2 separate regions of the Homo sapiens genome follow, and region 1 is linked to region 2. A link means that fine-mapping ties the variant in region 2 to the expression of a gene that starts in the linked region. Tissue or cell type: tibial nerve. Region 2 holds a variant in brackets; the other region holds the start of a gene. All regions are shown on one strand. Distances are between the middles of the regions.

The links. PIP is the estimated chance that this variant, and not a neighbour inherited with it, causes the effect.
Region 1: it holds the start of KNDC1, and the variant in region 2 is fine-mapped to the expression of KNDC1 in tibial nerve (GTEx, PIP 0.93).

What each region holds. Positions count from the first base shown.
Region 1 is chr10:133,158,551-133,161,298 of GRCh38, reverse strand. It overlaps KNDC1 (kinase non-catalytic C-lobe domain containing 1), which reads right to left and starts at 1,080. Exons shown (of 30, transcript NM_152643.8): 1 at 730-1,080. The coding sequence starts at 831. RefSeq lists enhancers at 1-119, 120-709.
Region 2 is chr10:133,187,482-133,190,229 of GRCh38, reverse strand. It overlaps KNDC1 (kinase non-catalytic C-lobe domain containing 1), which reads right to left. Exons shown (of 30, transcript NM_152643.8): 7 at 1,577-1,691; 8 at 561-632; 9 at 417-478. Among named protein-coding and RNA genes, the nearest start is that of KNDC1, 29 kb to the right of the region's middle. The variant C/T (reference allele first, on the strand shown) is at 1,281.

The sequences.
Region 1 (2,748 bases), 29 kb after region 2:
GAGGGTGAGGGTCCCTCTGGGAGCTGCTGTATCCCCTGGGGGCCACCTCTCATGCTTCCGGGCCTGGCTTGTCCACTCCATCCCAGCCAAGCCAGAGCTGAGCTACAGGGTCAGACCCAGCCAAGGTGGCGTCTGGGCAGCCGGTGCTGTAGGGTGGGCGGTCCATGAGCAGAAGCGCCAGGGTATGCAGATGGCAGGCAGAGCCCCTCTGCACCTTGCGGGGTAGGGGGGTCTTGGGTGAAGGCCCGGAAAACCAGAGAGCAGGAAGCAGCTCTCAGTCTCGGGGGGCAGTCATCCAGCGCTCCCCCCACCCCCCGCTCCTGAACCTCAGCTCCGGGGACCTCATCCCCCAGCTCCTGAGCGGCGCCTGATTGGACTCTGCTGCTCTGCACCCCGCTGGCCTCCTGGGGCCCGGCAGGGAGTAAGCAGACCCCCCTCCGTCCTCCTTGCTGCCCCCACACTGTCCCGCCAGGGTTTCCACCAGGAGCTACCGCGCACCAACTTCTGCAGGGGCTGCCCACCCGCCGCCGTCCCGTGCGCATTCGGGGGTGCTGTCCCCTCCGGGTGAAAATCCTAACGCGGGGGCTGAGAACGGCGGTGGGAACCCCTCGGCCATGGAGGGCGCCTGGGGAGGCGGGAGCTCACAGCCCCTCCCGGGTCCTCCCCCCGGGCGCTCTCCGCGGACCCCTCGGCGGCGGAAGGGGCCCCCCAGTGGGGCCGGGGGCTCACCTCGTCCTCGGGGAGGGTGGGCAGCGGCTCGAAGTCGTAGAAGTCCAGGTCTTTGCCGTCCTCCTCGTAAAGATCCGCCGCGGCCGGGTCCATGGCCTGCATCCTGCGGCCGCGCCGCGCACCGCCCCCGGGGCCTCCGGCTGGGCTGGGCTGGGCTCGGCTACGCGCGCCCTGGCTCCATGGAGACGCGCCCGGCCCTCGCCCGCCCCCGCCCGCCCGCCGCTGCCGCAGTGTCTCCAGGGGACGCGGTCAGGGATACGGGGCGGGCCCGGGGGGCGCGGGGGGCGCGGGGTGCGCGGGGGCTGCGCGGCGCTGTCCGGACCCGGCGCCTAGGGAACGTCGCTCCTTCCTGGGGGAGGCACCGGGGGCGGAGCCAGGCGTGTGGCCTCCGCGGGGAGCCACGGGGTCTGCGCCCCACCTGGGCCCCAAGGGTCGAGGGGCGGAGCCGGCGCCCAGGAAAGCTCGGACGGGCAGACCCCCTCGCCGGCTCCCGCCGCCCCCGTCCCACCCCCGCTGCTGCCGGGCGGGGCTGCCGCAGTCCCGGGGTGGCCTCTGCAGCGGCGTTGGGCAGGGCCGGGCGGGGCCCGGGGTGGGGGGCGGGGCCCGGGGTGGGGGGCGGGGCGGTCGCTGGGCCGGGGTCTCTCCTGAGCGAGGGTCTTTCGGAGGCCCGGGGATGTTGGGGGTGGGGCAATAACGCTGCCTCATCCCCACCTGGAGGCATCGGAGAGACCCACTGGGCACCCGACCCTCCCCGGTCCTGGGGGACCCTGGGGGGTCCTGGGGCTCTTGACCTCTTCCTGCCCCAAAGGCCCCCCGGGGCTTTCTTCAGCGCCAGGGTGACCCCGGCCCACGGTAGTGCCGCGGTCAGAAGAGCCAGGATAGCCCCAAGCTCGGCCAAGAGGCAGGGAGGGTGGAGGAGAATCTCACCTTCCCCGGCCACCCCCAGAACTCCCACAGGAGAGAGGGCGGCTTCAGGGCCCGGCTGTCAGCTCCCCGTCCGTGTGGCTGGCCAGGCACACAGTAGGTACTTAATCCATGCTCCTGGCTTGAAGGAGCAGCAGGGCTTTTGACCGCAGAGTGGGAGGGTGCAGTGTGTTCAGGGACGTGAATTCCCAGCACTCTGTCCCCTGGTCGGTCACCCGGGCTGTCACTCTGGCCTGGCAGGGAGTTCAGGGGCTCAGCTCCCCGGGAGCCAGGTGGGCACTGAAGCCGGAGGCTGGGAGTGGGGCAGGTGCTGGGCAGACTCCCTGCGTCCAGCCAGGCAGCCCCACCTTATTGAAAATGCCCACCCTGGGGCCCACCCTGGTCCACCGAGTCAGCAGTCAGGTGCAGCCTCCCCCATCCTTGGGTGTTTGGAAGCTTGGGCAGCAAGCCAAGGTGGAGTGGGCTGGAGCTGGAGAGGAGGAGTCTCACAGAGGGTGGCCTCAGCCAGCTGTCCCTGAGCTCTCTCTCTGTGGGCCCCACAGGGCCTGCAGCGCCCCAGTCCCTGTCTTGGAAGGAGGCGGAAGTGGCAGGCAGACTCTGCTCCAGGAGCCTGATCCCGCTGCACCCTGGTGCTCAGACCTGGACATTGGAGCTGAGCCCCTGGGCTCCTGGGCCCTCTGCTGCAGGGCTGGGGCCGCCTCCTTTGTCAGGTCTGGATGTGCCCCTGACGCCTCTCAGCTGCCACCCAGACTTGTGCCTCCGGGGGAACGCCGGGCTGACGTGACCCCAAAGGGAAGGCACCAGGGACCCCACAAGCACAGGACTTTGTCACCGAGTGCCCAGGTCACCTCACGGGCTTGGGGTGAGGATATAGACACTGAATAGGGGGCAAAGGTAACCCCATAATTTGGGGGGCAGCCATAGGGCAAGCACTCCTGGAAAGACGTGCATGCGGTTGGTAAAATGCAGAACTCACAGGCTCCTGGAGTCGGCCGTGTCAGCTTCGGCTGTTGCGGCCTAAAACCCCTCAGCAGGCATTTCCCACACCTGGGTCACTCAGCGCTGCTGCTGCTCAGGGCTGGGCACGTGGGGAGG
Region 2 (2,748 bases):
CTCTTCCTCGGTGGGAGGAGCGGGAAGTACACATTTCTATCATTCCTGAGTGGAAGTTTTACCTTGATTTTGAATGTAATTTATTGAATTGTATTTAAATTTGTGTAATTTAAATTTTAAGAATGCTCATGTTTCACAGGTGCCTTATACACATCCCTGGTTGTTTAGCCCTTAGTTCTCGTGAGCCAGGAGGCGCAGCTCTAGTGCACATGGCCAGTGCCGTCCACACCAAGCCCTGTCTTGGTGCCCCGGCCAGAGCCACGGCCCTGCTGGCAGATACCGCCTGTGGCCGCCTGGCCAGGAAGGGCTGCCCTGACTCCCTCGAGTCCTGATGGGGGGCTGCTGGACAGATGGGGGACGTGGCATCCCCGAGGGCTGGGGGCAGGGCTGGGGCAGGGTGGGGAGGGCCCGGGTACCTTTTCAGTTACCAGCCTCTCCTCTGCCAGCTCGGGAGCCAGAAAGAACGAGTCATAGGAACCTAAGAGAGAAACCCGACTGAGCTTTCCTCACCCCTGGCGAGCCGGTGCTGGACTCGGCCTGAGGGGAACCCACACACTCACCGTTGGCAGGGGGTGGCTGGAAGAGCACAGCCCCGTCCTCAGCAACCAGCACGGAGTCCAGACACAGGTAGGCTGTGGCAGAGCTTGGGTCAGGGCGGGTATGCATGCTGCCCCGCACTTGGGGCTGGCTGGGGGGAAGGAGCTGCGGAGCCTCAGTCAGGCCGGGCAGCCCCCCAGCCTCCCCATTGCACGGGCACGCACCTGCCAGTGCACGCACATGGCCTGACCCCAGCCCCCGGGGTCCTCGGAGCTGCCTCCTCCCAGCCCTCCCCGAGGGTAGCGCTGCCCCAGCCGACACAGTGGCTGCAGCGGCATATCTGCGGCTGAAAGGGAGCCAAGCGGCAGGGAGAACACGGTAACTTGAAGCCCCCGTGTCACAGGCCCCGTCCCGAGTCAGGGCCCACGGGGCAGCCACGGGCTCACGGTGGACGGACACTGGAGCCGGGTGTGTCTCCGATGGCCTCTCCCCCAGCCCTTTCAGATGCTGCCCTCATCACCCCCAGGACGTTTTTACGTCTCAGATGCACCGTCCGTCTGCCCTGATGTCTGGCAGGGCTAGGCTTTGACGGGGCAGACCCGTGCAATGCTGAAGATTCCCTCCCCACTCCAAAGCCAATTGCTGCCTCCCTGGGGACAATGTCACTGTGTTGAGAATGTGTGGGCGAGGGCCATGGCAAAGTCCCCGTTCCTCTTTACGGCACAGTCACCGGTTTCAAGGCC[C/T]ACCTTGCAGGCATCTGTCCCCACACCTCCCTCGGTGCTGCAACCCAGCAGGCACCCACAAGGTGCTCCAGACGGGAGCCGCCTGTTCCGTTCACCGGAGACACTGTCCTGGCTGCCCCTGGGTCCCTTGGTTCAGGTGGGGGCCAGTTACGCATGGGACGGCAGGGGTGATGGGACAGTGGGGGGGCGTGGGACGGTGTGGGGGGTGGGACGGCGGGGGTGTGGGACGGCGGTGGGGGGTGGAACAGCAGTGGGGGGTGGGGACGGCGGGGGGGATGGGATGGTGCGTGCGTCACCTGGGTGCTCAGGGCGTGTCTGCAGTGCGCGGAGGCAGGCCAGGCACAGGGCCCACAGCTCGTACTCCCGGAAGGGCCGGCCCAGCTGGGACAGGAGGTCCTGCAGGGACACCCACTGTGGGCAGGAGAGCGGCGAGGTCAGTGTGGACACCCCTTGCCAGGGCCCGCCGCCTGGAGAGGCATGTCCGGGGGACAGGCCAGGGTGAGGCCCACTCAGCCCCTGAGTAGGCGCCCCCCACACCTGATAGAAGGGCTAGGGAGGTCCCTAAGTCAACTCCAGCGTGTGGGGGCCGTGGGGAGACTGGGGCCCTTGGCCCTGTGGGTGGGAACGTCCCACGGTGCAGCCACTGCAGACGACAGTGCTGCCGTTCCTTGAAAAGCTCAACATACACCTCCCAGGTGACAGCAGTTCCACACGGCCACATTCCCCGAGGAACCGAGGGCAGGGCTCACGCATACGTGCACACCCATGTTCCCAGCAGCACGGCTCGAAATAGCCAACACGGGGAGCACCCAGGCATCCACGGACGGACGCAGGGGCAGTGTGGATGGCGCTTGGCCTCGGGACAGGGATGGGGGGTTCTCACGCAGGCTCCCTGGGGAGGAACCGTGAGGACAGTGGGCTCAGTGAAGAGACCAGACACACAGCTCTGTCCATCCCACTCCCACGAGGCCCCTGGACAGAGCTCATGGAGGGGAAGGGTGGGACGGGGTGCAGGGGCCAGGCTCATGGAGGTGGAGGGCGGGACGGGGTGCAGGGGGCGGGCTCGGGGGTTGGGGTTTCGTGTGGGCTGATGGGGACAGCTGTGCAACAGCGTGAACACACCCAATGCCGCTGAGCTGTGCTCTTGCAGAGGGTTGAAGTGGTGGCTTTTGTTCGGTGCATTTTCTCACATACACACACACCGTGACACCAGGCATGCGTTCAGCCTGGGAGGCCACTCTCCACTCCAAGGCCTCACGGACAGCTGGGACCAAAGTCCACCCTCCAACAGGTGGCTCGGCCACCCTGTGCCTCCGTGTGCCCTTCGGGAAGGTAGGCTGTTGTGCGTGGGAAGGCGTGCCGCCAGGGAGAGTGGTGGAGGGCGACGGGGCACTGCGCCCTTGTCCTTCAGATCAACGAGGCCTGGTGGCTTGAGGGCACCCCCGTCCCCGGGCCAGGCGCTGCCTGG